Homo sapiens: one gene and its partners. The protein of the gene in region 4 interacts with the protein of the main gene of each other region in a pairwise test. Each region holds a gene or a part of one and is shown on either strand. Other genes may lie near its edges.

The links.
Region 1: the proteins of LHX6 (region 4) and NRF1 interact in binary tests that used the Homo sapiens proteins (3 or more experiments, as listed by UniProt).
Region 2: the proteins of LHX6 (region 4) and ATXN1 interact in binary tests that used the Homo sapiens proteins (3 or more experiments, as listed by UniProt).
Region 3: the proteins of LHX6 (region 4) and SNCA interact in binary tests that used the Homo sapiens proteins (3 or more experiments, as listed by UniProt).
Region 5: the proteins of LHX6 (region 4) and ZNF76 interact in binary tests that used the Homo sapiens proteins (3 or more experiments, as listed by UniProt).
Region 6: the proteins of LHX6 (region 4) and WFS1 interact in binary tests that used the Homo sapiens proteins (3 or more experiments, as listed by UniProt).
Region 7: the proteins of LHX6 (region 4) and ATXN3 interact in binary tests that used the Homo sapiens proteins (3 or more experiments, as listed by UniProt).

The regions. Positions count from the first base shown.
Region 1 is NC_000007.14:129,705,314-129,709,663, reverse strand, and holds part of NRF1 (nuclear respiratory factor 1), read right to left. Parts: intron 590-4,350; coding exon 431-589; intron 1-430. UniProt on the Homo sapiens protein: Transcription factor that activates the expression of the EIF2S1 (EIF2-alpha) gene. Links the transcriptional modulation of key metabolic genes to cellular growth and development.
Region 2 is NC_000006.12:16,306,375-16,310,724, reverse strand, and holds part of ATXN1 (ataxin-1), read left to right. Parts: intron 1-3,865; coding exon 3,866-4,350. UniProt on the Homo sapiens protein: Chromatin-binding factor that repress Notch signaling in the absence of Notch intracellular domain by acting as a CBF1 corepressor. Binds to the HEY promoter and might assist, along with NCOR2, RBPJ-mediated repression. Binds RNA in vitro.
Region 3 is NC_000004.12:89,829,812-89,834,161, forward strand, and holds part of SNCA (alpha-synuclein), read right to left. Parts: intron 1-4,350. UniProt on the Homo sapiens protein: Neuronal protein that plays several roles in synaptic activity such as regulation of synaptic vesicle trafficking and subsequent neurotransmitter release.
Region 4 is NC_000009.12:122,211,637-122,215,986, forward strand, and holds part of LHX6 (LIM/homeobox protein Lhx6), read right to left. Parts: intron 2,801-4,350; coding exon of another isoform or gene 2,790-2,800; exon of another isoform or gene 2,748-2,789; coding exon 2,647-2,747; intron 2,434-2,646; coding exon 2,338-2,433; intron 2,145-2,337; coding exon 1,970-2,144; intron 1,761-1,969; coding exon of another isoform or gene 1,600-1,760; exon of another isoform or gene 1-1,599. UniProt on the Homo sapiens protein: Probable transcription factor required for the expression of a subset of genes involved in interneurons migration and development.
Region 5 is NC_000006.12:35,265,385-35,269,734, forward strand, and holds part of ZNF76 (zinc finger protein 76), read left to right. Parts: intron 1-4,350. UniProt on the Homo sapiens protein: May be involved in transcriptional regulation.
Region 6 is NC_000004.12:6,289,500-6,293,849, reverse strand, and holds part of WFS1 (wolframin), read right to left. Parts: intron 2,654-4,350; coding exon 2,483-2,653; intron 1,934-2,482; coding exon 1,853-1,933; intron 1-1,852. UniProt on the Homo sapiens protein: Participates in the regulation of cellular Ca(2+) homeostasis, at least partly, by modulating the filling state of the endoplasmic reticulum Ca(2+) store.
Region 7 is NC_000014.9:92,079,083-92,082,582, forward strand, and holds part of ATXN3 (ataxin-3 reference isoform), read right to left. Parts: intron 3,385-3,500; coding exon 3,218-3,384; intron 1,980-3,217; coding exon 1,883-1,979; exon of another isoform or gene 1,871-1,882; intron 387-1,870; exon of another isoform or gene 333-386; intron 1-332. UniProt on the Homo sapiens protein: Deubiquitinating enzyme involved in protein homeostasis maintenance, transcription, cytoskeleton regulation, myogenesis and degradation of misfolded chaperone substrates.

The DNA of each region.
Region 1 (4,350 bases), on a different chromosome or scaffold from region 4:
TTTCTTGTAAAAGTTTTGTTATTAGCAGACTCAGCTGGCAGACTTCATATCCCTCTAATTCCATATTTACATTTTCAACAATGATTTTTAGTAACCAGAAATAAAAGCATTTCTAAGTGTTCAAAGTGATTAATACTTTTACTTCAAGTTTCTTTGACTTTCCCAAGCACTTCATAAAATTAAAACTGCTCCAAAAGGCAACCCCGAAGACACATTTTAAATTCATCAACTCAACCCAGTCTTCTCTTTATAGTATAGTGATGGAGCGACAAATGGAAAAGGCTATAAATCAAAGAATATCAGTCTTTGGAGGGACAGGCTTAACTATTACACAAAGACTTTCTAGCACAAGATGTAGAAATGACAAAAATTGAGGTGGTTAATTTAGGATGGAAAAGCAACCAGGCAACTCAGTCAGAGGAACTCTCACCCTCTGCTTTTGCTCTTCTGTGCGGACATCACTCCGGACATTTGCCCAGGGGATATCTTCAGGCCACCAGATGGGCTTGCAGCTTTCTTTCCCCCAGCCTGGTTTTCCCCGACCTGTAGAGTACTTGAGCATCTCTGGGATAAATGCCCGAAGCTGGGCCTGGAAGAGAACAGTGTGGTCATCAATACTCATGAAAGACATCTGGGGTGTGTTTATGACTCCTTAAATTCTAACCTTATAAAACAGAGAGGTTTCCAGGAAGGTCCCAGAGAATTCTAAGATGTGACTGATGAAAACCCACTGTTTTCCATAGGTTCCTATATCTCCATGGGTGGTTGAGAATTATAAATATGTTGATAAAGTGCACCTTAGGCTGCATTTTGTAGACTTGTTCCTCTAAGAGTAAGAATATCTACCCCTAAGTTTAATTTCTGCTTCCCAAGATATTACTGGTACTATAGCTTATTTCCCTTCTACAGTTTTCATGCATGTAAGGTGCCAAACTCGGGGTGTTTTCAACACTGTTCTGGAAGTAGGAATCCATGCAATTAGATAAGAGAGAAATAAGAGGCGAGCTGATAAAATCATTATTATTTATAGATGAAGTCACCTTATATCTAGAGAATTCCAAAGAGATCAAATGAAAAACTACTACAAACAATAATGAGAATTCAATAAGGTGGCTGATTATAAAATATAGGAAAACAAACAGGCCTTTAACTTAATAAAAAGGGAAAATAACCCTAAAACTCTTCTAGAAATTTTCCAGTAAGCTAGGCCACTGTCCATGAGTCTGACATATAGACATAGTAAAGCATGTGTGAATTTAAATGCATTATGGACTTCATTCAGATTTATTTTACAAATCAAATCCAGACCAAACAGGTTTTAAACCACAAAGACAACTGCCATTCTTATTTCCTGGCATAGTAACCACACTCTGTGTGTGTTGGGGGAGGGTCTACTTTGTGAATATTCTTAATCGCTGATAATGATTTCTGGCAAGAAAAGCAGTTTATCAATTTATGATCTATTCCTCCTTCCCAGACCTACTGTCTTCCTTTTAACCTGGTGGTCTATAGCACTCCAGATATAAGTAGCATCCTGCAACTAAGGATGCACCCATACTGCCCCTGCAGCTGAAAACCAAAAAGAGGCCACTTTTAGCAATGAATCAGACTCGGGGGTGTGGATTTGTAGTTACAAAGTAAAACAAGAAAAAACAGAAATGAGAATAATTAAGTATTAATGAGAGAATGAGTACAGCAACACTTTAATATTAAAGATTTCTATAAATATCAGGTATTCTTATCATTCTTATAATAAATATTAGATATTATTTTACGAGAAGATGATACAAATTGTTACATAATAGGGAACCATGAACCCAATCAGTAATGTTGACCTAATAAAGTTCTGGTTGACGGTAGCCATGCTGTTAATTCCTGTGCCAAGCCTGCCACTTCACCTCTCTAAGTCCCCCAATGCCCCAACAGTCTCCTGCCTACAGGATATGATATAATACACTCCATATATATTTGGCTCTGGCATCAAGCAGCAGGCTGATAGAAACGTATCCATTTAAAAACCCATCAGCTGGCTCATGCGGTCATTACTTCAGTTATTTTAAGAAAGTACATCTCAAAGTCATTTTTCCCTTTATTCTAATTTCTTGGGAGTGTGTCTTTTTCTAGGCTCAAATACATAGAGCAAGAAAGGGCTTAATCTTCACACACAATATTTTATACTTCTTCATGTTAAAAAAAATGGCTTTCTCAGAGGTATAGATTAAATTGATATAGACTTTCATAAACTCCCTTTTCTTTGAATACCATTAACAGTTTCCAAAAAGGAGAATTCTTTATATTCATACCTAGGAGAGTCTGGAGAAAATGAAATGAGAAGGCTAAATAATTCTAAATTAACAAAATCCTAAAGTGGGTTGGGTGCAGTGGCTCATGCCTATAATCCCTGCACCTTGGGAGGCTCAGGCAGGCAGAATGCTTGAGACCAGGAGTTTGAGACCAGCTTGGGCAACACAGTGGGACTCTGTCTCTACCAAAAATACAAAACTCAGTCGGTTACAGTGGCACGTGCCTGTAGTCCCAGCTACTAGAGAGGCTGAGGCAGGAGGATCGCTTGAGCTCAGGAGGTCAAGGATGCAGTGAGCCATGATGGTGCCACTTCACTCCAGCCTGGGTGACAGAGTGAGACCTTGTCTCAAAACAAAACAAAACAAAACAAAACAAAAATCCTAAAGCGGGTGACAGAGCAAGACCCTGTCTTAAACCAAACAAACAAAACAGAAATCCTAAAGTGATCAGAAAGCACTCACTGTGGAGAATACTAGACTGACAGAGTCTGCTCAGATCCACCTGGAACCCTCTATATTCCCTAATTCTGGTGATCGCTTCACTTCTGACGCCTCACCCTATTTGCACCAATAGTTCCTTATGCTCCTCAGTTCTGGGTCACGTTGGCACCTGGACGTGGATATCTTTCACCCTCAAGTCTTCCTTCGGCTCTCCCACCAGGCCTTCCAACTGAGTTCCAATAACTCAATGTTACTTGAAAGGTGGGCTCAGCATCAGCCTCTTCACTTAAACTCCTACCCTACCCTCTCTCCAATCTACTTGTCTTCTCAACTTTTTTATCTTAGCAAGTAGAAAACCACCCTTTCCCCGGCCACTCAAACTAAAAATGTCAAAGTTATCTTTACTTTTCTCCTTCAACACTTACCTAGTCACACATTGCAAGTCCAGTTCTTTTGTTTTCTTTGAAACGTCTCTGGTGTCTATCCCTTCTTCTCCGGCCCCACCTTTATTCTAATTTTTTGGCCCAAGGCTAGTGTATCCTTCTAGTTGGCTTTCTTGGGAAACTCCAAGTTCTCCCTTCATTCCCTCTTCCCACATATCCTTGCCTGAGAGGTTTTCCTAAATGTTACCTACATAGCTCCAATGCTCAAAACACCTCCAAATGTCTTTTAACTATGGCAACTAAACTAGATCCTTCTGCCCAGCTTTTCAGACCCACCACAATCTGGCCTCACACTACAGTCAGTTCCCATTAATTCCCACCACTCAGCCTTGGTCCTCCATCAGACAAATCTCTGCACTGTCTTAAGAGCTGCTAAGCCCATTCCCGCTTCTTTGCCTTTGTTCTGTCCCCTGGCTGGACTATTTTCCATGCTACTATTCTAATGCCGCCACTCATTCTTTAGTGCCCAGAAAAGTCCTACATTCTTTGTGGAACATATACTAACTATTCATTCATTCTCTCTCTCTCTCTCTCTCACTCTCGGATCTTGCTCTGTGGCCCAGGCTGGAGTGCAGTGGCATGATCACAGTTCAATGCAGCCTCAACCTCCAGGGCTCAAGGGATCCTCCTGTTTCAGCCTTCAGTAGTTGGGACTAAAGGCGCATGCCACCATGCCCAGCTATTTTTTTTCTTTACTTTTCCTTCTTTTCTTTTTTTTCTTTTTGTAGAGAAGGGGTCTCCCTACATTGCCCAGGCCAATCTCCAACTCCTGGACTGAAGCAATCCTCCTGCCTCAACCACCCAAAGTGCTGGGATTTCAGGTGTGAGTCAGTGCACTCAGACTCACTTCTCTTAAGTTAGCTCTTTCTACCAAAAAGAACACAAGGGCCGGGCTTGGTGGCTCACGCCTGTAATCCCAGCACTCTGGAAGGTCAAGGAGAGCAGACTGCCTGAGGTCAGGAATTTGAGACCCACCTGGCCAACATGGTGAAACACCGTCTTTACTAAAAATACAAAAATTAGCCAGGCATGGTGGCACATACCTGTAATGCCAGCTACTCAGGAGGCTGAGGCAGGAGAATCGCTTAATCCCGGGAGGCGGAGGTTGCAGTGAGCTACGATCGCTCAACTACACTCCAGCCTGGGCAACAGAGCAAGACTCC
Region 2 (4,350 bases), on a different chromosome or scaffold from region 4:
ATGAGGTCAGGATATCGAGACCATCCTGGCCAACATGGTGAAGCCCCCACTCTACTAAAAATACAAAAAGTAGCTGGGCGTGGTGGTGGTGGTGCATACCTGTAGTCCCAGCTACTTGGGAGTCTGAGGCAGGAGACTCGCTTGAACCCGGGAGGCGGAGATTGCAGTGAGCCGAGATCGCGCCACTGCACTCCAGCCTGGGCGACAGAGCAAGACTCCCTCTCACAAAAAGAAAAAAAGAATCCAACAATATTTTAAATATTGTTACATATAGCCAATATTCATTCAGATTCACCATGTATCTACCATTTTCATTCCTCTTCATTCCTCCCTGTACAAACTTCAATCTAGATTTGTTTTTTCTCTACCTAAAGAATACCTTTTAGTATTTTCTATAATGCAGATCTGTTGATGGTGAATTCTTTTAATTACTGTTTGTCTGAACATGTCTCTATTTTGCCTTCATTCTGGAAGGATCTTTTTGCTCCATATAGAATTCGCCATTGACAATTCTTTTTCTTTAGCACTGTAAAGATATTCCATTGTCTCCATTGTCTACTGGCTTCCATTATTTTTGTTGAGATGTAAACTGTGAGTTCCATTGTTGCTTATTTGGAGATAATATGTATTTTGTTCTAGAGGCTTTTTTTTTTTAATGGAGTTTCTCTATTGTCGCCCAGTCTAGAGTGTGATGGAATGATCTTGGCTCACTGCAACGATCTTGGCTCACTGCAACGATCTTGGCTCACTGCAACCTCCGCCTCCCGGGTTCAAGTGATTCTCCTGCCTCAGCCCCCCGAGTAGCTGGGATTACAGGTTCCTGCCACCATGCCCAGCTAATTTTTGCATTTTTAGTAGAGATGGGGTTTCACCATGTTGGCCAGACTGGTCTCAAACTCCTGACCTCAGGTAATCCACCCACCTCGGCCTCCCAAAGTGCTGGGATTACAGGCAGGAGCCACCACACCCAGCCTGTTCTAGAGGCTTTTAACGATATTTTTTCCTGTTTAGTTTACAAGATGTCTTTGATTTATAGCAGTTTAATTCTCATCTGCCTCAGTGAGGATTTCTTTTTGTTTATTTTTCCTGTTTGGGGCTAGGCCTTCTTGAAACTGTCTTATTATCCTTCTTCAGTTTGGGAAAATTCTTAGCCATTACCTCCTCAAGTATTAACTTCTGCCCTATTATCTCCCTCTCTTCCTCCTCCTAGGATTCAAATTATGTGTCTGTTAGCCCCTCTCAATGTATCCTATGTGTCTCTTACCCTCTCCTCCATATTGACCATCTTTTTGTCTCTATGTTCACTCTGTGGAGTCTCTTCTAAAGCTCTAATTAGAGAATCCAGTTCCTGAATTCTTTCTTAATCCATGTCTATTCAACTGGAAAGCTCATTGCATTCTTGATTTCAGTGGTGTATATTTTAATTCTACAATTCTCATAGACCTTTTTTAATTAATTAATTATTATTATTATTATTATTTATTTTTTTTTTTTTTAGAGACAGAGTCTCACTCTGTTGTCCAGGCTGGAGTGCAGTCTTGTGATCATAGCTCACTGCAACCTCTAACTCCTGGGCTCAAGATCCTCCTGCCTCAGCCTCCTGAGTAGTTGGGACTACAGGCACGCATCACCACACTAGGCTATTTTTTTTTAAATTTCTGTAGAAACGGGGTCTCATTTTGTTGCCCAGACTGGTCTGAAACTCCTGGCCTCAAGTGATCCTCCCTGTCTCAGCCTCCCAAAGTACTGAGATTACAGGCATGAGCCACCATGCCTGGCTTCATGGATCTTTTAAAAACAGATTCTAGTTTCCTATCAAAATTCTCAAGCTGTCTTTAATCTTCTTAATTATTGTAAGCATAGTCTTTGTAAAGTCTATATGTATGACTCTATATGAGAAGCCCTGGTGCATCCTTTTTTAAGATCTGATATTTTGCTAGTGCTTATACAAGCTATCTGGTCTCCTCATGACCACCACCCCCCTTTTTTAAATTGAATGCTTTTATTTGCAAAATTGTGAAAGTAATTCAAGACCTTAATCCAGTTTTAGGGACTCAGATGAGTCAATCTGAGCTTCAGACCTTGAAAGGCCTGTTGGCTTGTGGTTCACTGTCTCCTCTAAGGGACAGTGCTTTGGGGTCACAACTCAAAAGAATGGGGCTCACCAGAGAACACCCTCCCTTGGTGTATCCTGAACTCCATTACCTGTTCCCTATGCTCTTAACACTATCAAAAGCCCACTTGGTTTCCCAACTGCTCCACTTTGGAATGTTCAAGTGCCTTCAGGAGAAAACAGGCCCCCAACACCAGCTTCACCTCTCTGGGCCATCATCTTTTCCTGATCCAACCCAGGAAGTGTGTGTGTGTGTGTGTGTGTGTGTGTGTGTGTGTGTGTGTGTGTGACGGAGTTTCACTCTGTCGCCCAGGCTGGAGTGAAGTGGCATGATCTCGGTTCACTGCAGCCTCCGCCTCCCGGGTTCAAGCGATTCTCTTGCCTCAGCCTCCTGAGTAGCTGGGATTATAGGCGCCTGCCACCACACCTGGCTAATTTTTGTATTTTTAGTAGGGACAGGGTTTCACCATGCTGGCCAGGCTGGTCTCAGAGTAAAGTGGCACGATCTTGGCTCACTGCAACCTTCGTCCCCCGGACTCAAACGATTCTCCTGCCTCAGCCTCCTGAGTAGCTGGGATTATAGGGGCCCACCACCACACCTGGCTAAGTTTTGTATTTTTAGTAGAGATGGGGTTTTGCCATGGTAGCCAGGCTGGTCTCAAACTCCTGACCTCAGGTGATCCACGCGCCTTGGCCTCCCAAAGTGCTGGGATTACAGGCATGAGCCACCGCGCCTGGCCTTTTTACTATCTTATTTGCTGTCCAGTACTATAAGAAAAAAAGTTTAAACATTTTGTCCAGAGTTTTTAAATTTATTTGTTTGCTTATATTTTTGTTCAGAGTTTTTAGTTGTCCTCAGAAGGAGGGTTGGTCCAAATTACCTAGTCTACTACATCTAGAAAGGACATTGGAAATTGACTTTTTTTTTTTTTTTTTGAGACGGAGTCTCACTCTGTGGCCCAGGCTGGATCGCCCAGTGGCACGATCTCGGCTCGCTGCAACATCTGCCTCCTGGGTTCAAGTGATTCTAGTGTTTCAGCCTCCCAAGTAGCTGGGATTACAGGTGCCCGCCACCACGCATGGCTAATTTTTTTTTTTTATTTTTAGTGGAGACGGGGTTTCCCCATGTTGGCCAGGCTGGTCTTGAACTCCTGACCTCAAATGATCCACCCACCTTGGTGTCCCAAAGTGCTGGGATTACAGGCATGAGCCACTGTGCCCAGCCACCAAGCATCCTTTTAGGGGCTGGGGACTCAGTGATAAACACACTGTGCCTGCTTCTTGGAACTCACAGTCTCACTCTGATCCATGTTTAGTCCTGTCCTGTATGATAATAGCAGTTGTCCATTGAGCTCATAAAATCTAAGACCGCGCTGGGCTTGTGAGCCACCTGCAGAGCCTAGCTTGGTGCTGAAAGCTAAGTGGGTGCTCTGTCATTACTGGGGTTCGATTGACTGGTTCTAACAGAGACCAGCTATAGAGCTAACACTTGATGGAATATTTTGAATATTGATGACCTTTTCACTGGCTTCTGCCTATGGCAAGTAGAGGTACAACCCAAAGAGAAGAGCCTCATTTATAGTGTGTGGCTGGGGGAGAGGGAGGTTTGCAAACTGAGTCATTTTCCCCCATTCAGCCTGTGTGTGTCTGTGTGAGTTCATACCTGTGTGTGTGCATAAAATCAAACAAGAATAAAATGTTTTCATTTGTTCCCTTCCTTCTTCCTCTCTCTGTCTCTCCCTGTTTCCACAGGTCAGCGTTGAAGTTTTGGTAGAGTATCCTTTTTTTGTGTTTGGACAGGGCTGGTCATCCTGCTGTCCGGAGAGAACCAGCCAGCTCTTTGATTTGCCGTGTTCCAAACTCTCAGTTGGGGATGTCTGCATCTCGCTTACCCTCAAGAACCTGAAGAACGGCTCTGTTAAAAAGGGCCAGCCCGTGGATCCCGCCAGCGTCCTGCTGAAGCACTCAAAGGCCGACGGCCTGGCGGGCAGCAGACACAGGTATGCCGAGCAGGAAAACGGAATCAACCAGGGGAGTGCCCAGATGCTCTCTGAGAATGGCGAACTGAAGTTTCCAGAGAAAATGGGATTGCCTGCAGCGCCCTTCCTCACCAAAATAGAACCCAGCAAGCCCGCGGCAACGAGGAAGAGGAGGTGGTCGGCGCCAGAGAGCCGCAAACTGGAGAAGTCAGAAGACGAACCACCTTTGACTCTTCCTAAGCCTTCTCTAATTCCTCA
Region 3 (4,350 bases), on a different chromosome or scaffold from region 4:
GAAGTGCTGTGGTTTTGTCACTGATTATAATGGGTTTCTGTTATTTATGTAATGATTTGAAGGCTGAAGAGTTAGCAGCAAAGTTTGTACTTTATGCAATGACTTTCGGTATACTGTGGTAACAGAAATTTGAATTGTGTTGTTAGTGGCTGGTGTTATTTAACTAACCATAGTACCTGGAATTTGTTTGTGCTGGAACTATGCAGAGTGAGAACAGCTGATATTTAAGAGAATATGTTTCAATCTCTATCTCTCATCCTCACCACCTGCACCCCATGTTGTCTTAAAAATGACTAGTAGTAAGAAATGTCTAACAGCTGGAATGCGATCTTTGTTCTTTGCCTTAGCAGTACCTAAGAATTTGACCTTTGGTTAAATTATGAAACATATTCTAAATCAAAGACAATGAGATAGAAGTAGAGAGTAGAATTATGATTATTAGAGGCTGACAACGGTAAGAGGGAGGGGAGGATATGGAGAGGTTGGTTAAAGAATATGAAATTGGAGCCAAATATGAGGAATGAGTTCTAGCATTCTGTAGTACTGTAGGGTGATATACTTAACAATAGTTTATTGCATATGTTCAAAAATCTAGAAGAGAGAATTTTTAATTTTTACTGTTCCCACCACAAAGGAATGATAAATGTTTCAGGTAATGGATATGTTAATTACCCTAATTTGATTATCACACATTGTATACATGTATGGAAATATAATTCTGGATCCCACAATTATATACAATTATTACATATTCACTAAAAATAAAAGAAAAATTAAAAATAGAGTAGCATATGACCCAGCAATCCCTCTTCTGGGTGTAGATCCACAAGAAAAGATTTCAGCATATCTGTTTCCAAGGGCCCCAACACAGTGGCTCTTGCTTGGAATCCCAGTGCTTTGGGAGGCTGAGGCAGGAAGATCACTTATAACTATATAAGGAATTTTAAAAACACTAAAACTAATATTTATTTATTTAGCAAACCAGAATTTAAAACATTAGAAATTAAAGTGTTTTATTTCTTTGTAAAAAACTTATCAAGAGTAATGTAAATAGTGTTTGTCTTCTTCTCATTGTATAACTTCCTATACGGAGTGGACATGTTTTTTATATTTTACAGAATTGTCATACTCTATTCTAAATTTGAATTAGGAGTTTGAGACCAGTCTGGGCAACAGAGTGAGATGCTATATCTACAAAAAATATTAAAAATTAGCCAGGCATGGTAATGTATGCCTGTAGTCTCAGCTACTTGGGAGGCCAAGGCAGGAGGATCTCTTGAGCCCAGAAGTTTGAGGTTACAGTGAGCTATGATAACACCACTCCATTGCAGCCTGGGTGACAGCAAGACCCTGTCTCCAAAAAAGAAAAAAAGAAAAACATAATAGCCACAACTAAAGTGTCTACTGATAGATAGGTAGATAAAAAGATTGTGGTACATAGATACAATGGAATATCAGTCAGCCCTAAAAAAACAAGATCCTACCATTTACAACATGGATGAACCCAGACAAAATTATGCTAAGTGAAATAAGCCAAACACAGAAAGAAAAATATTACATTATCTCACATATATGTGGAAGCTTGAAACAAAATTCAAATATACAGAGACTACGTAAAAAACAGGGTTAATAGGGGTGGAAAAGTAGGTAGAAAATAGGGACATATAGGCCATAGGATCCAAGCAAGTAGCAGATGTGTAAGATGAAAAAGTGTACAGATCTAATGTATGAGGACTGTAGGTGATAAAATTGTACTATATTTGAGATTCATGATAAATAAGTGGATTTTAGCTGCCCTTGCCACAAAAACAACAAAAAAGGTAACTATGAGAGATTATGAATATATTAATTTGCTTCAATATAGTAATTTTTTAGTGTCTAATGTATCTGATAGCATCATGTTGCATACCCTAAATATACACAATTAAATTTATTTTTAAAAAAGAATGCCACTAGGCCGGGTGCAATGGCTCACGCCTGTAATCCCAGCATTTTGGGAGGCCGAGGTCGGGGATGATGAGATCAGGAGTTCGAGACCATCCTGGCTAACATGGTGAAACCCCATCTCTACTAAAAATACAAAAATTAGCCGGGCATGGTGGTGCATGCCTGTAATTTCAGCTACTCAGGAGGCTGAGTCAGGAGAATAACTTGAACCCAGGAGGCGGAGGTTGCAGTGAGCCGAGATCACACCACTGCACTTCAGCCTGGAGTGAAATGACAGATTGAGACCCTATCTCAGAAAAAAAGAAAAAAAAAAGAATGCCACTAAACCACACCATTAGAACTTATAATTAATTATTTTTTATAAATATCTTATGCAACATATTTTATATTTTTGTAGTGCAACCCCAAAGAGATAGGTATATAACTTAAAAAAACGAGATAAATGAGAGTCCTCATAAGGTTACCATGTATCAAACCAATCAGTTGTTCTTTGAGGTCATAATTATTTACTAATAATCTGTAATTGATGGTTAGCCTTTAATTTATGAGTAATCTGTAATTGATAACGTACACCTACAAAATAGGTGCCAAGTGGTTATGTGACTAGCAAGGTATAAATGCTGTAGGGACACCAGAGCTGATGGCTTCCCTGAGCGGAGGTGTCCCACACACACCCTATCTTGTCTTCCCAACCTCAAAAGAGCACAGAGTGGAGAAGAAGGTCAGAAGTAATACCTGAGAGTTTTGAGAACTCAGTTATCCCTGTTGTGCATGTTATGTTGACTTTGTCAGCTTAGTGAGGTGAAGCACATTTTGACTTGAGAATTTGCTATCAATTTCACTGATGGCCACTGCTGCTTATTGAGCAGAGTGGCATTGGAAGACACTCAAAGATCATCATTTTCTTGTATTTATTGCATTTATATTACTGAGCATTATATAAAGATAATTAAATCTTTCTGCTTTTGGATTTAGATCTAATTAATTTCTGAGTCATTTGAAGAAATTTTTGTCTATTAAATTGAAGTATGTTGATTGAAAATTGGTGTACGCAGATAACAAAAATGGAGGGAACAAAACCCATAAAAATAACACTGATCATTAAGGTAGTTCTTCAATGAGTTAAAAAGTAGTTGTTAAAAGTATATTCTTATAAAGGAATGAGATTACTTTTCTTATGAGGCTTCTACCAAACATCTTCAGCCATAAGTGAAATTATAAAATGGTCTTTGGTCGCCTCCAATCTTTCAAACTAGTTATGTAATGAAGGATAAAAGAATAAATGGAAAACGTGTTGGCAAAGTAATTATTCCGTTGGAGAGTTTATTTGATAATAATAACCATGGTTCCTATATATAAAAGTGTGCTCAATTATTCATATGTCCTGTCTTATTATGACATTCCCACAAAAACTGCAAGGTAGTTGCAGTTTTCTAAATCATATTTTTTACTAATCAGGGAAGTGATGCTCAGAGATGTTAAGTACGCTTCCCCAAGACCCTAAAGGTGATAAGTGATGTAGTCTCAACTAAAACTTTGGTTTGTGTGATTAGTGCATGTTCTTTCCACTCTATCAGTAGTCAGCAAGCTACAACATACAAGACAATTCCAGCCCACCACCTGTTTTGATAAATGAAGTTTTATTGGGACACAGCCACACTAGTTATTGTTTATGACTACCTTCACACTTCAACAGCAGAATTGAGACATAGATTTTTTTTTCTTTTTTTTAGACAGGGTATCACTCTGCCACCCAGGCTGGAGTGCAGTGGCTCGATCTCAGCTCACTGCAACCTCTGCAGTGAGCTGTATGGCTCAAGCCATCCTCCTACCTCAGCCTCCTGGGTAGCTGGCAATACACATGCATGCTACCATACCCGGCTAATTTTTGCGTTGTTTGTAGACACAGGGTTTCACCATGTGGCCCAGGCTGGTCTCAAACCCCTGGGCTCAAGTGATCCACCAGCCTCGGGCTCTCAAAGTGCTGGGATTAAAGACCTGAGCCACGGCACCTGGCCAAGACATAGATCTCATGGCTTAAAATACGTGCTATCTGATTCCTTACCCAAAATTTTGCCAATCCCTGGACTATACTATTGTGTCTTCACATGGTCATTTTTTATCTTAAATTCTGTGTGTAAGTTCAACTCTCAATTAGAACTCAGAATGTAACCAATAAAAAATTTATAGAATGTGCTATGTGTTAAATGCCATGAGAGACATTGAAAATGATTTCAATGAACAGTTAAAAGGTAACTAAGTCAAAGAAACTTGTGCTTGCAGAACTTGGAAATCTGAGGACAAACGGAAAGATATTGATAAACTGCATGTCACTGATTCAGTATTCCAAATTCCATCTAAAAAGGTATAATTCACACTTCATAAAATATTTAAAATTAACTC
Region 4 (4,350 bases):
CACACCCCCAACCTCTTCTTCCCCAAGCTGAGTTCCACCACAAGGGTAAGAGGAGAGGGCACCTCAGCCTCTTCTCTAAGCAGCAAAGACAGATCTAAGTTTGGTCAACAGAGTGTATGGACAGAGTCCTGGCAGGGACTCTGGAGGTCATGGCCCCAAGTCCAAAGGGATCATCTAGATTTCTTATTGACTCTACACCAAGTATTAGCAGGTAGCTCAGACCCCTGGTACTTATAGCGCCCCTGATCCTTGGCACCTTTAACAGGCTCTGTGCAGCCTGAATATAGTTATTGTTTAGAAAAGAAAGGGGGAAAATGTCGCTCCTATTGAGCAGATAGTTCAGAAATGGAACTATATAAAGAGACATGGTTTCCAACTGGCAGCCTGGTGCGAAGACAGGGCTCTGCACTCCTAGTTCTGCCAACCAAAACCACTCCCACCATCACAAGAGCAGCCAATACTTATGCGGCACTTGCTGAATGTTGAGGATTTTCAGTTACCTCGTTTGATGCTCAGAACACTGCTTTGAGATACTGTTGTCCTCATTTTTACAGATGAGGGAATGAGTATGCAAGAAAGCTAAGAAACTCACCCACTGTCACACAGCTAGTAAATGGCAGGGCTGGGATGTGAAGCCTGGCAATCTGAAACCAAAGCCCACACTCGATCATTAAGGCATACCGGCTCCCACTAACTTACAGTGGGCCCTTGGTTTCCTCATCTATTCAAGGAGATGGTGGCCTCTGATGTTTAGAGACACAGTCAGTAGAATATATGGCATATGGTCAGTAAGCAGCAGTTCTCTGTCTGATTTCCCTTCTTTTTCCCTCTTACATGGAGCCAGAGAAGGGAGGAATTGTGTCTGTGTGCATCGCAGTCATTTACATTTTTTTGGTCATGCCCAGCTTAGAGGAAACAATTGATGGGAACAACTTCAAAGGGAAAGACAATCTGTGATAGGCACCTGCTCAGCAGCAGATTCACTGAACACTCATCCTCCAGAAATCCCCGGGGCTCCTCCCTCACTCCTCCAGGTTCCCGCTCACAAGTCACTTCACCATGACCCGCTTGCCCCTGCATCTCCGCCACAGTACTCCCTGCCACGGACATGCCTGCTCCCTCCCTGTTACTTTATCATCTCCACCATCTCCCATGCTGGAGTGCAAACCCCAGGAGCACAGAAGCTTTGGTCTACTGTGTTCACTGTCGTATCCCAGTGCAAAGAACACAGAAGGCACTCAAGATATAGCTACTGAATGCATGAATGGTGTCTCACAACCCTGTGAGGCTGGCATTATTGACATCCCAGGTTACAGATGAGGAAACCAGGGCTCAAGGAGGTTAGGTGACTTGCCTAAGGCCTCACAGCCCTGGACACTCCCATCACACTGGCCTTCTGCTCCCCAGAACACACCCATGCCACGATGCTTTCTGGGCCAGGGCCTGCGTGCATTCCGTTCCCCCACTCCAGGTACCTCACTAAATCCTATCCATCCTTTCAGTCTCTGCTTGCTGAAAGGCAGCCCAGCCCCTTCCCTTCCACCCCGCAGCATCTCCAGTCACTCCTACCCAGCACCTTTCCTACAGGAATCATCCCACTTAAAACGACACACTCATCTGCCTATTTTTCCATGCCCACCAGAACGCAGGCTCCACAGAGTAGGTACCTTGTCCAGCCTGTTCTCTCCCCAGTCTCCGGGCACTGGCACATTGTGGGTGCTTTGAAGGCATTTTTTGAATGGCTGCTGAATCGCTTGCCTCTATGAAGGATCCCGCTCCACTGAGGCAGAGCCGAAGATTTGACCCTTCTTCCCCCAACTCCTAGATCCAAATGACTTCGGGTCCCGCTTCTTCACCCACGAGGCTCCCCAAGGCCCTCCACCCCACGCCTCGGCCTCAGCCGCCCACGTGCGCTCCTCCGCGCCCCCTCCCCGCAGGCCCAGCGGCTCCCGGCGCTGCGGTTACTTACTCTCAATGTAGCCGTGCAGGGTGACCATGCGCGCCCGCTCGGGGCTGCTGAACGGGGTGTAGTGGATGTCGTCGGACAGGGCGGAGGGAAGGCGGGACGGGGGCGCCCCCGAGGGCGGCACTGGGTGTTGCGGCGTGTGCTTTTTATGACGCGCCCGGCAGTTTTGAAACCACACCTGGAACGACAGCCTCGGCAGCCTCAGCCTCGAGGAAAAGAGTCGGACGCGCCGCCGGGAGACCCCAGGCGGGACTGCCTCGTCGCCTCCTGGAGAAGGATGGCCACGTGCACGCACCACCCTCCGCGCCGAGCCCAGCTACGAGCTCCGGGGCGTGCCCGCGGTCCCCAGGCCCCGCCCACCCCCGTCCCACCTGGATGACTCTCCGGCTGAGGCCCGTCATGTCCGCCAGCTTCTGCAGCGTCTGAGCGTCGGGGTTGTTGTCCTGCGCGAACTGCGCCTGCATAACCTGCGGGGCGGGGAGGGCGGTGAGGCGCTCGCACGCAGAGACTCCGAGACCCCGGCCCAATCAGCGGCGCCAGTCCACAGGCCACGCCCCAGGCAGCTGCGGCCCCGCCCCGCCACCCGGGTCCGGCCCGAGGGGCGGAGCCAGGAGACATTGTCGGCCCCGCCCACTTTCGGCCCGGCCCCCGCCCCCGCCGCCCACTGCTTGCAGCGGTACCTGCAGCTGTTCCGCGGTGAAGGACGTCCGCGCGCGCTTGGCCGGCTTGGGTTGACTGTCCTGTTCCGAGGGCACTGCCCCCTCCAACGTGAGGCCGTTCCCTGGGGGCGATAGAAGCAGCTGACCACGCGTCCCCATCTCTTCTAGTGGCAGCCTGGAAAGGACGGGGGTGGGGGGAGCTTGTCCCTGGAAGGGTCAGGAGCGGGAGTTGGCTGGGAGCAGGGATCCCAGGGTCCTAGTCCCTGAGCTCAGTCTTTGGGGAAGGGGTTTCTGAGCGTCCGCTTAGTACTGGACACTTCTTACACGACTGGACCACGTCTTACAGCCCTAAGGAGAGGTGGCGTTACCTCATTATACATGGGAGGAAACTGAGGCTCAGAGAGAAGGAAAGCCCCTGCCCTGGCCCTTTCAACTAGAATCCGAAAGCTAGCTGACCCTAATGTCCCAAACTGGGCTCCCTGCTGGCGAAACTGGGGGACACCAAAGGCTAGAGGAGATAGGAAGCAAGCAAGTAACGGAACTATGCTCCTAATTTTATAAAAATAAGCGGAAGGAAAAAAGGTTGTAAGAATATACAACAAGGTGTTGGCAGTGGTTTACTTCCCAGGAATGTGATTATGGAAACTTTTTACTTTCAGTATTCCTGTAACTTTTGAGGTATTTAAAAACAATCATATGTTGCCTTACTTCTGTAAGGTTTAATTTTGTTAACCGGCGTATATGTTAGATATTCTCTTTCCACTCATATTACTTTTACAGTCATACTAAAACACTAACCATATTCCCATTTTATTTTTAATACTTCATTGTTCTGAATATCCTCAAAATCTCAGAAAATTTCCATAAGCACAAAGAAGAAAATAAAAATCACCAGTAATTCCAGCACTCAGAAATAACCATTGTTCACAATTTATTGTAACTTTTTAATTAGGAAAAAATTATGTTGAAGGAAAAAAGCAAACATTGTAACATACATGGAAAAAAATCTGAGAAGATACACATTAAAATATGAAGAAGGCAGCATTTGGAGCAATCGTTATTTTCTTCTTTTTGCTTACCGTCTTTTCTAATTTTTCTACAATGAACGTGTGTGTATCTGTGTGTGTGTTATGTTTAAAAAGTGAAACAGTAGCCAATACTGAGGGCTGATCAGTAAGAGAGATCGGAGGCCCCAGCTTTCAAGTTCCTCAGCATGTTAAGTCTGTGGACAGGTGTGGCTGTGAGAGCTAGGATGTAATTGGCAAGGTTGTAACTACAGGTGGTCCTGGTTGGACCATGTGTGGAAGGAGCCTGTGGTCGCTGATGGACCACAGTGTGGGAAAGCTCTGACTCCTGGGTTTCCATCCCAGCTCTACTGCTGACTTGCTGACCACTGCAGATAATTTCATTGCCCATCACTGCAGATAAGCAGGCAGCAAGTGAAACCCAAGTTCACTAGATGCCCCCTTAGACCCACTTAGTCCTGATCCTGGCAGGAGAAAATGATGGCCCTGGTATGCCCATGGCCAGGAACACTCTTGCGGTCCCTGACTAGTCTCCAGGCTGGGACCTAGAAGTTGAGGCAGGGTGGTTCATACTCCTCCCCAGAAAAACTGGGGGTTGGGCAGACACTCTGTGGTATTAATGTCCCCTAGGAAAGCAGGCAGGGCAAGGATTGGTGTGTTGGTTTTTTAGATGGGAAACTAAAACAGAGGCAGCTACATC
Region 5 (4,350 bases), on a different chromosome or scaffold from region 4:
TAATCCCAGCTACTCGGGAGGCTGAGGCACGAGAATCACTTCAACCCAGGAGGCAGAGGTTGCAGTGAGCTGAGATCACGCTGCTGCACTCCAGCCTGGGCGACAGAGCGAGACTCTGTCTCAAAAAAAAAAAAAAAAGAAGAAGAAGAAGAAGAAAATGCCAGGATTCTGGGTGTTAAAATTTTAAATAGGGTAGTTGAAGAGGTTCCCACTAAAAAGGTAACATTTGAGCAAAGACCTGAAGGAAGTTAGGGGGTAAGTCAAGCATACATCTAGGGGAAATTTATTCCAGTCAGGAAGAACAGCAAACACAAAGGCCCTGAGGCAGGAATGTGCCCTATATATTCAAGAAACATGAGGAAGCCAGCCAATACGGCTGCAGTATATTAGTGAGAGAAGAAATGGCAGATGTTGCGGTGGGGGTGAATTGGGGGCAGATCACACAGGCCACTGGCTTGTAGTGTGAGTTGTGAGTGAGATGGTAGCCATTAGAGAATTCTAGGCAGATAAATAACATGGCCTGACATATTGAAAAGGTCATTGTGGCTGCTGTGTTGAGAATAAGCTATAACGGGGCAAAAATGGAAGGAGAGAAACTGGTTAGGAGGCTACTACAATAGTCTAAACAAGAGAAGTTGGTGGCTTGAACCCAAGGTGAAGCAATGGAAAGGTGAGAAGTGGTTGGCTTCTGGATGTATTTGGAAAGGAGCCAACAGGATTTGCTGATGGACTGGATGTGATATATAAAAGAAATAGCAGTTGAGGGTGGCTACAATTTTTTTTTTTTTCAAGACATCTCGCTCTGTCGCCCACGGTGGAGTGCAGTGGCGTGATCTCAGCTCACTGCAACCTCCGCCTCCTGGGTTCAAGTGATTCTTCTGCCTCAGCCTCCTGAGTAGCTGGGACTACAGGTGCATGCCAGCGCACCCGGCTAATTTTTGTATTTTTAGTAGAGATGGGGTTTCACCATATTTGCCAGGCTGGTCTCAAACTCCTGAACTCGTGATCTGCCTGGCTCCCACATTTTTGGCCTAAGTAACAAAATGGTAAAATTCCCATCTACTGAAATTGGGGAGCCTGGAAGGAGGGCAGGTTGTTAGAAGGAGGAGATAAGGAATTCACTCTTGAACATGTCAAGTTCGAAGTGTTTTTTGGATATCAAAGTCGAGATGTTGAGTAAGCAGCTGGATATTCAAGTCTTTTGGAGCCTAGGAAATGTCTACTCTCAGGAAATAAAAGAACACCATCACCTGGCAAGAGACAGCGGAGTATGGGAAGAACACTGGTGGTCAGGTGTTAGGCCCTGCTCTGCCACCAGGTAGCTATGTGATCCTTTGGGACTCCTCTGGCAACGCAGGCCTCTGTCTCTTCATCTGCAAAATGACTGCTTTATTTTATTTTATTGTCTATTTCTTTTTTTTTTTTTTTTTTTTTTGAGACGGAGTCTCGCTCGTCACCCAGGCTGAAGTGCAGTGGCGCCATCTCGGCTCACTGCAAGCTCTGCCTCCCGGGTTCACGCCATTCTCCTGCCTCAGCCTCCTGAGTAGCTGGGACTACAGGTGCCCACCACCGCGCCCGGCTAATTTTTGTATTTTTAGTAGAGACGGGGTTTCACCGTGTTAACCAGGATGGTCTCTATCTCCTGACTTTGTGATCCGCCCGCCTTGGCCTCCCAAAGTGCTGGGATTACAGGCTTGAGCCACTGCATCCGGCCCCTTATCTGTTTCTTTGACAAGGTCTTGTTCTGTCACCCAGGCTGGAGTGCAGTGGCGCAATCATGGAGGCTCACTGCAGCAGTGACCTCTCCAGCTCAATCAGTCCTCCCATGTCAGCCTCCTGAGTAGCTGGGACTACAGAGATGGGCACCACCACGCCTAGCTAATTTTTGTATTTTTGGTAGAGAGGGTTTCACCATGCTGCCCAGGCTGGTCCTGAACTCCTGGGCTCAAGCCTCCACCTGCCTCGGTCTCCCAAGGTGCTGGGATTACAGGCATGAGTCACCACACCCAGCCAAAATGACCACTTTAGACTAGGAATGAGTTGTGTTCTCAGCCCCTCCTATTGTGGGAGTTGATGAATTAAGTGCTTAGAATAAACATGATAATATATGTGTATCTGAGAGCATTTTGGAAACTGCTGAGTTCTACACCAGGTAGTGGTATTGGCAATAAGATTTCTTCCTTCATTCGCTGAAGTAATACCCAGTGAGTGCCTGCCATGTGGTGGGCACTATGTCACATGAGGATACGATGATGGAGAAGACGAATCTGTGCCCTCAGGGAGCACCGCAGACAACCCCCTGTTGTGGCTTCACTGCCAAGTGCAGACGAAACATGGGGCTGGAGTGTGACATTAGCCAGGGAAAGCTTGTTCCTGATCTGGGTCTCCGTGGAAACAGTGAACGTGCATGTCAAAGATGAGGCAAGATGGTAATCCCGATGAGGGAAAAGTCATCCACTTAGCTGGACTAGGGAAGAGTTGGGAGTGGTTGGGAAGGGTTGGAGTGGTGGGGGCTTCAGTTCCTTCCCTCCTCCATTCTTTCGTTCAACATTTACTTCCTTGCCAGGAGCTTCTCTTAGAAGCTCACAGTTCTGTGGTAGATGAAGAGTTTCATATCTGGTCTCAGGAGTTCAACTTAGATATTACAATAAGCAGAACTGAATCAGGATTCAAATCTGAGCTAAAGAGCTCAGTTAGCTATGTAACCTAGTAGTATTAATCATTTGGTATCTGTGGGCACATTCTTTGTTAGGTGCTAATTAGGCTGAAAGGCATGCTCTCCAGGAACTTAAATTATAATCACTGTAACAGAAAGTAAGAATGTTATTTTCCCCTAAAAGAGTCAGGTGTTAAGGAAAACACACTCCGTGGCAGTGTAACCCTTTAACTGCATCTGGAAACTGTCCCTGTGGCTGTGTTTATTCTTGTGTCATTTAGATGTCTACGTTTATATCGTGAGGAGAGTCTCTTTGACCAGATAAGAGTATAAGATATAGCTCATCCTAATTGACAAAATTAGTCACCCACAAAATTAGTTTAGAGGAGACATAGTCAACATCTACCACGTAATGGAATGGGGAAATTTTGTCCTGGAGAGTGAAAAAAGAAAAAACAAACAAACAAAAAAAACGAAACCTGGCCGGGTGTAGTGGCTCACACCTGTAATCCGCACTTTGGGAGGCTGAGATGGGCAGATCACGAAGTCAGGAATTCAAGACCAGCCTGGCCAACATGGTGAAACCCCATCTCTACTAAAAATACAAAAATTAGCTGGGCATGGTGGCGTGCAGGAGAATTGCTTGAACCAGGACCCAGGAGGCGGAGGTTGCAGTGAGCCAAGATCGCACCATTGCTCTCCAGCCTGGGCTATAGAACAAGACTTCATCTCAAAAAGAGAGAAAAAAAAAAAAAAAACCACCTGCAATACAAATCCAAGTGCAGCTGAAGCCATTGTCTTTAACAGATGGCCCTAACCTGTTTTGAGTGCTGTTTCCTAAAGCTGCCAACAAACTTCAAATGCCTTTTACCCTGGCAGCTATCAGTCAAGATATAGAAATGTGATGGTCTCACAAATCCTATGCAATTGTCTCTTTTGCTGGCAAAAGTATGAGGCCAGCCGGGTGTGGTGGCTCATGTCTGTAATCCCAGCACTTTGGGAGGCTGAGGCGGGTGGTTCACCTGAGGTCAGGAGTTCGAGACCAGCTTGGCAAACATGGTAAAACCCCATCTCTACTAAAAATACAAAAATTTGCCGGGCATGGTGGCAGGCGCCTGTAGTCCCAGCCACTGGGGAGGCTGAGGCAGGAAAATAGCTTGAACCTGGGAGGCGGAGGTTGTGGTGAGCTAAGATCATGCCATTGCACTCCAGCCTGGGCGACAGAGCGAGACTCTGTCTCAAAAAAAAAAAAAAAAAAAAAAATGTATGAGGCGTACTCAGGCTCCTCTCTTCCAGTTCAGAATCAGAAGGATTTGTGATGTTGGACAGGTCATTCGGGGTCTCAGGCTCATTATACTGTCATTACCTGGAAGCCAGAGTGCCTCTTTTCTAGTGCCTCTATTTGACATTCCCTTAGAGCTGGCCCTCTGGTGAATAGTTCATCCCTAAGAAGGCCAGATACAACTTGTTACCCTGGTACTATCTCACTTCATCACTTCATTTGTTGGGAGTTCCTGCTACTTTTGGATGGTTGATAAAGCATGAGACCCATACAGTTAAGATAAGAACCAAGGAACTGGGAGCTCTTTGAGGTTGTAGAACTGACTTGAGGCTTTGATGTTGGGGATTTGGCAGGGGTGCCTAAGACCAGAGTTCTTTCTCTGAGATCATCTTCTCAACCCAGGAAATACTGT
Region 6 (4,350 bases), on a different chromosome or scaffold from region 4:
GGGTTCAGGACGGCGTCTGACACACGAGAGTGGTCACCAATGCCACCCACACATCTCCCTACCAGAGCACAGTCCCTACGGGAAGACCCTGGTCCCCACAAGGAAGGCCCCTGTCCTCATAGGGATGAATACCTTGGGCAGGATGTCCTGTCCTGAGAGACAGGACATCAGTCTAGGGACCCCAAGAAGGAGCAGCCAGTGTGGCAGCAAGGGCCCCGGGCCTGGTGGGGGAGAGGGCTCTAAGGAGAAGAGCAGTCATCTCTGCCCACGCTGCTGACAGATCAAGTCAGACAAGGACAAGAAGTGACTGAGCAAGGGGGGTCACTGATGGCCTAGACGAGCCGCTTTGGTGGAATAACATGGCAGAGGCCTGAGAGCAAAGGACGGAGGACGAGAGAAGGGGATGACAGACGCCCCTTTCTGGGAGTTCTGTTGGAAAAGCTGGCAGAGAAACAGATGATGCCTGATGGGAACGTTCTGATAGAGGGGAAACAATGGGGGTGCTGGGGCCCTGTCCCTGAGGGCCTGGCGGAGGGGACCACAGGCTGGCAGCGCTGACTCCTAACTCGCCCCCAGCAACAGCGACAGGGCCCAGCAGCAGGTGTGCCCGGCTCATCACAAACCCCTGTGGGACTGGGAAGTGAGGTTGGGGTCCAGACTCTGCCTGCAGTGCCCCCCAGGATGGAGACCCAGGCTGGGCTGCTCCTGCCCAGAGGCACCTCACTTCAGGACAGCAGGCACCATGCCACCTCGGTGGCAGGACACTGTCACAGCCTCTCTGGTCCTCGGGCTTCCTAGAGTCACAGATTTCTTCCCACTTCCATGTGAGGTGTTTCTTTGTCTCCCCCAAATGGAGCAGGAAAACAGCAGCGCAAGCACCCATGTCCGCCCACGCAGAGGCGAGGGCTCTGACCACACCCTATGGACGGTTTCCTCACGGGCCCAGTGGGAAGGTGGGATCTGTGCTCCCACCTGTACTCTGCCCTACATGCCACAGAGGCTTCTAGGATGGGCGAGGTCCTTCAGTCCCCTTGTCTGATCATCTCACTGTTCAGAAGGGGAAACTGACACCCAGAAAGAAAAATGAGACCTGCCCATGTCACAAGAAGAGTCTGTGGCAGACCTGGGTCTTGGCCCATCCCCCCATTGATACTGAGCCCCCAAGCCTCCTGCCTGTCTATCTTCTCCAGGACAGGAGCTCCCAGTGCCTCAGACTGCAGAGTCTACCCCACGTGGATGGAAGACAGTGAGGCTGGCCAGCTGCACGTGGAGGATGTGACGTCTCTTCTCAGTCTTTGACCACAAACATCCCAGAGGCACCCCCAGCTCAGTGTGCCCCAGAGACTCTATCCCCCAACCTAGGCTCTGCCCACTCTGTTCCCTGCCTACCTACAAAGGGCCTACGCTGGGGCAGAGCCCCTTCCACACCCTGCTGGGTCTCCTGGGCCTTTGCTCATGCTGTTCCCTCTGCCCGGAGCCCCTTCCCCTAATGCCCTCCTCATCCTTCCCCACTCAGGACCCCCCCGCCAGTCCCCACCCCCAGTATTTCCTTGTCCAAGAGGGACTGGCACATCATGGTTTCTGTCCTGGGTCTGCCTTCCCTCCAGTGCGTGCGCTCCAGGTGGGCAGGGTCTACTCCCAGCGTCCAGAACACTGAGCCCCAAACGGACCGCCTGAGATCCTAGCAGGGCCAGGATGGGGTCGCACAGGAAGGAGAGGTCGCCCTGCAGGCGCAGGCTGGGAGGCACGGGTGAGATAGGGCAGGCCAGGATGGAGTCGCACAGGAAGGAGAGGTCGCCCTGCAGGTGCAGGCTGGGAGGCATGGGTGAGACGGGGCAGGGGCTGCACTCACACTCGCTGCTGACCAGGCGCTCCAGCATGCGCCTCTGCTTCTGCAGGGACTTGGGCACGGGGCCTGGCTGCGCCCCTCCATCTGCAGGGGACAGGGTGGATTAACAGTCAGACAAGTTGACTATCTCCTCGTGCCCTGCAGCCCACCAGAAACTGGCGCACTGTTCCTAGGGCACGCCAGTTCCAGGGGCATCCTACGTTCTGGGGATCATAGGGCCCCCAGGGCAGGCAGAGCAGGGGCCACACCTCTGTACCTCCAGTAGCTGGGGTGGACTCAGCACCACGTAGCGTGCTCCCACTTGGTGATGGACACAGTCCGTCCCATTGGTAGACGTGGTCACAGAGCACTGGGCAGAATACCCTCTGGTTTATTCAATGAGTGAGCACTTGAGCCAGGGCAGATGCTGTCAAAATGCCACCCACACACCTCACCACTAGGGCACGGTCTCTACAGGAAGGTTCTGGTCCCCTGGTCCCCACAAGGAAGGGCCCTGTCCTCACAGGGAAGGTCCCGGCTCCTGTGGGAAGACCCAGCCCCTGAGGGAAGGTCCCAGCCCCTATGGGAAGGTCCTGGCTCCTGTGGGAAGGCTGGCGCCCAGGGAAGGCTGGTGCCCAGGGTGAATCCTCGCACCGTGCTCGTTGACCTGGCCGACATTCTCCAGCAGCTCCGCCACGGCCACCTGCTTCTTCTTCTTGGGGTTGAGCTTCCAGTACATGACCAGGGCTGCCTTGCGCACGGCCCTCTCCAGGTCGGTCTCGGAGGAGAGCTGCCTCACCTCCCGTTCGTTCTCGGACGTGATGCCTGAGGGATAGGATGTGGTCAAAGGCCTTGTGTGCCCTGCCTAGGCTTTCGGTGCCACTCTGACCCTGCCAACTCTGCCTGGAAGGCTTTCGAGCGAGACTCATAGAAGGTGTCAGGACTTGGTTACCAGGGAAGGATGCATGGACATCTGACTCAAGAGGACATCGCGCCACGCCCACTCTCCAGCTGGGAGGCCAGACTGGTCTCCCACCAGACGCCCCCAAGTGCCCCCTACATGCTGGCGGGAAGAAGGCAGCCTCTTCCTGTTCCTCCCCTCTCTCAGAGGTGCAGACCCGGAGGCACAGGCCTGTGTTCTGGCTCACTCAAGGTCACACAGTCAGAAAGAGGCAGAGCTGTCTTGAACCCAGGGTGGACTCACTGCAGTCACCAGCCTGGGTGCACTGGCAGGGCCACCCCTGTGTCTACAGAGCTTTCCTCTGTCTCACACACAGCCCAGCCCTTTCTAAGGAAGGCTTGGACAGCGGGGAGAGGGAGAGCAGGTTTTACCGCTGGTCAGCAGCTGCCTTCCTCCCTTTACCCCCAACGGCCTGGGACACTGGCACAACCAAGCAGAGGGCAGGAGGACTGGCACGGGGGTCTGGATGTTTTTCTCCTTTTGAACATTTCCAAAATTTTCCACATGAGCATGTATTTCTTTTCAAATCAGAAAGCACAACTGCACATCAGAAGGTGTGTGCAGCTGGGGGAACACGGGGCCAACCGGCCTCCTCCCTTGCACGCTCTGCCCCAGCAGCCTCTGGGCTATCCCTGGCACCCAACAATGAGCCGTGTGGGCCGCCTGAGCCCCCTCCAGGTCATTCCAACTGCTCTGGAATCAGCAGGCTGGGTTGGTGAGAAATTCTGGCTAACAATGCCACTGTTAGTTTTTCAAAATCATCAGTTTAATTTTCAAAGAGAAGACTCTGTATAATAAATGTAACTCTTAAAATATGATACAAGCTGGGCATGGTGGCTCACGCCTGTACTCTCATCACTTTGGGAGGCCAAGGAGGGTGGATCCCCTGAGGTCAGGAGTTTGTGACCAGCCTGGCCAACCTGATGAAACCCTGTCTCTGCTAAAAATACAAAAATTAGCTAGGTGTGGTAATGCACGCCTGTAATCTCAGCTACTCAAAAGGCTGAGGCAGGAGAATTGCTTGAACCAGGGAGGTGGAGGTTACAGTGACTTGAGATCGCACCCCTGCACTCTAGCCTGGGCGACAGAGTGAGACTCCATCTCAAAACAACAACAACAAACACAGAAGGAAATACACCAAAATATGGGGAGTTGCTTCTGGGCTTCAAGGTTATGAGTAATTTGTATCTTTATGTTTTCTACATAGTCCAAGTTTTCTATGATAAGCATAAAATACTCTTACAATCTGAAAAAAAAGGTATCATTAGAAAAAACACCTTTGTGACACCCACTTTCATCTTTCCCTGAGGCGTGGAACCTTCAGGAAGCACACTGCCCCACGGCACCAGGGACAGCCACTTCCCTTGCGCAGGACAACGTCCTAACTCACCACCCCTGGCCTGAGCTGCGTCCCTTTCCTCCCCTGCCTCTCTGTTTGAAAGAGATTATCTATGAAGGGTCAGCCTGCCTCCTCCCAAAGTGAACATGCTTGTCCAGGTCTGTGTGGGCCCACAGCCCCTCAGCTGGTCTGCCCAGACTCGACGGACATCAGCTCAGGGGC
Region 7 (3,500 bases), on a different chromosome or scaffold from region 4:
GGCTGAAGTGGGAGAATCGCTTGAACTCAGGAGGCAGAGGTTGCAGTGAGCAGAAATTGTGCCATTGCACTCCAGCCTGGGCAACAGAGCAAGACTCCATCTCAAAAAAAAAAAAAAAAAAAAGCAAGATTGGCCGTGTGCTAGTATTTGTTGAATCTGGGTCATAAACAGGAGTATGCTAGTTTTTCTACTTTTGTATAAATTTGGAGTTTATTATAATAAAAAAGTTAATTTTGAAACTTAAAAGTAAAAAGCACTAATAAGCACTACTTTGAAATTTAACATATAATTAGCCATTAATCTATACTGAATAAAGACTAGAAATATCTCACATTAAGAGGATGTCAGCTGATCAGAATTTTCCTTCATCTACTTCTGAGTTGTGACTTAAAAACAAAACAGAAAAAAAGGTAAATATTTTCTTCATTATACCATCAAATGTAAAATGAGCCAATATTTATAGGTGCTGCTAATATACTGTCAATTATGACTGTAAGATGCTTCTCAATTTCAGAGACATTGAAATGTGAAACTATGTGCATCTCAGAATGGATGAAATACAGCAAATAGTAAGTCAGATTGAGCTATGACTCTGTTTTCTGACCTAGGATCAGTGGGTCTGATTATTTATCTTGTAATCTTTAACATGAAGTTTTCTTTCTCTTTTTTTTTGAGACGAAGTCTCGCTCTTGTCCCCCAGGCTGGAGTGCAATGGCGTTATCTCAGCTCACTGCAACTTCTGCCTCCCAGATTCAAGCGATTCTCCTGTCTGAGCCTCCCAAGTAGCTGGGATTACAGGCACCCACCACCATGCCCGGCTAATTTTTGTATTTTTAGTAGAGATGAGGTTTCACCATGTTGGTCAGGCTGGTCTTGAATTCCTGACCTCAGGTGATCCACCTGCCTTGGCCTCCTAAAATGGTGGGATTACAGACGTAAGCCACCGTGCCCAGCCTTTTATTTTTCTTTAAAAAAAAAAAGTGGGGGACAAAAGTCTGAATGATAGTTACTTGAAAAGAATGTATTTTCATATGGTGGAATTCCTATTTAGCAAGCACTTACAAGGCTGGGCACAAGGTAAGGTTTTAGGAGTTGATCCAGATTTATGGTTTGCATCCATTCCCCTGATGCTAACAGGCTTACAGGACTGCCTGAAGCGGCCATGAGCAGCTAAATGAACTACCACGTCTATTTGGGAATGCGCTCCCATACCTCCAAAGCTGTTTTTCGTACTGATTGGTAGAGGAATTTTGCAGGGTTAATCAGGTAAGCAAGAAGTACATCCAAAGGATCAATTGGCATTCTTCTTGTCTTGTCCTAATTTCATTTTTCTTTTAATAAATGAAATTTTATAAGGTTTCCTTCACTCAGTTTAAAAAATTTATCCAGTATTGGGGCAAGGTTTTTTTGTTTCATGTTATTTGCCGTAAATTTTTATTTTTATTTATATATATATACATATATTTTTGGAGACGGAGTCTCACTCTGTCACCCAGTCTGGAGGGCAGTGGTGCGATCTCGGCTCACTGCAACCTCCACGTCCCGGGTTCAAGCAATTCTCCTGGCTCAGCCTCCCAAGCAGCTGGGACTACAGGCGCACGCTTCCATGCCCAGCTGATTCTTTTGTATTTTTAGTAGAGATGGGGTTTCACTGTGTTGCCCAGGCTGGTCTCGAACTCCTGACCTCAGGCAATCTGCCCGCCTTGGCCTCCCAAACTGCTAGCATCACAGGCGTAAGCCACCGTGCCCGTCCTATTTGCTGTAAATTTTTAAAAAATACATTCAAATATTCACAGGATTCAGGCAGTAACCATTTACAAATAGACAAAATAGCCAAAGCAAATATTAAACATGCTACTTTAACTTGTACCAACTACTTTACTTTTCAAAGTAGGCTTCTCGTCTCTTCCGAAGCTCTTCTGAAGTAAGATTTGTACCTGATGTCTGTGTCATATCTTGAGATATGTTTCTGGAACTACCTGAAAACAAAACACAACACAACAAAAACCAATCACTGTATTTACCAATTCAAGCAACAATATGTTTGTTTATACTCATTTGAGTAAGCCTTTAAAACGTTTTCTCTTTAAGAATATTCTACTCTTCTGGCTGGGCGTGGTGGCTCACACATGTAATCCCAGCACTTTGGGAGGCCAAGGCAGGTGGATCACCTGAGGTCAGGAGTTCAAGACCAGCCTGGCCAAAAGGGCAAAACCCTATCTCTACTAAAAGTACAAAAAATTAGCTGGGCGTGGTGGTAGGCGCCTGTAGTCCCAGCTACTCAGGAGGCTGAGGCAGGAGAATCGCTTGAACCTCGGAGGCAGGGGTTGCAGTGAGCCAAGATCACTGCACTCCAGGCTGGGCGACAGTGAGACTCTGACTCAAAAAAAAAAAAAAAAAAAAAGAAAGAAAAAAAAAAAAGAAAGAAATCTAAAGCTGATTTCTGTCCCTGCTAATCCAGCAGGACTCTATTAATCAAAAATGGGATTGCACACCATATGGAGTACTCAGAGGCATGCATAGAGGCAAGAAAAGTTCAGGATAAAAATAATCTTCCCATTAATGAAATTTCAATTTTATTTAGATATCTAAGGAAATCAACTGATAAATAATTTCATTAGAAAGTAGAAGCAAATACATATGAGTTAGAAAAAAATAAAACAAAAAACCCACTTCAAACTTTTAATTAAGCTACTTTGAGCTATGTCTTAACATTTTTCTTTGCCTAGATTGTCTAGGGGATATGTTTTCGCTTTTCTCTATTGATAGTTTATATCACTAAAAAACTGGGCCCACCAAAGTGGGCTTACGGTTTAAGTTGCATAGCCAATAAATGTTGGGTTTTTGTAAAATCAGTTTATATTCCCTGTCCAGGCCCTTCCATAGTGTCTAATGGCACATATTTATGTAACAGCTGATTTGGATAAGGGTCAACTGATACCCACAAAGATTAAAACCACAATTTACTATTGTGTTAGTACAGTGTTGAAACCAAATAAAATAACCAGGAGTAAAAATATAACTACTCCTAATAAAATATAGGTTGTAAAAAGTGATTTCCATTATAAGAAATCTAAAGGGAAAGCCCACTATATAGCTATTGCTTCTGCAGTAATTGTCAAAACACCTCTAAGAGTACATTAACTTCCATGAAATCTAAGAATAATTGGAATCAATTCTTCAGCAATGAATACAACACACATCAGAATGTCTTTACCTTGCATACTTAGCTGAATAGCCCTGCGGAGATCTGCTTCCTCATCTTCCATGTCAATTTCTTGGCGACTTAGTGCCAGAGCCCTCTGCAAATCCTCCTCATCTTCGTCTAACATTCCTGAGCCATCATTTGCTTCTAACACTCGTTCCAGGTCTGTTTTATGGACTCTAAAGAACAAAAGCACTGGTAATAACTGCAACCAATCTTCTATTTTAGACATAACATAAAGGCATTTGTAATGTAAAGGCTTTAAGTAAGTCAAAACTTAAAATGTTTTCTGGCA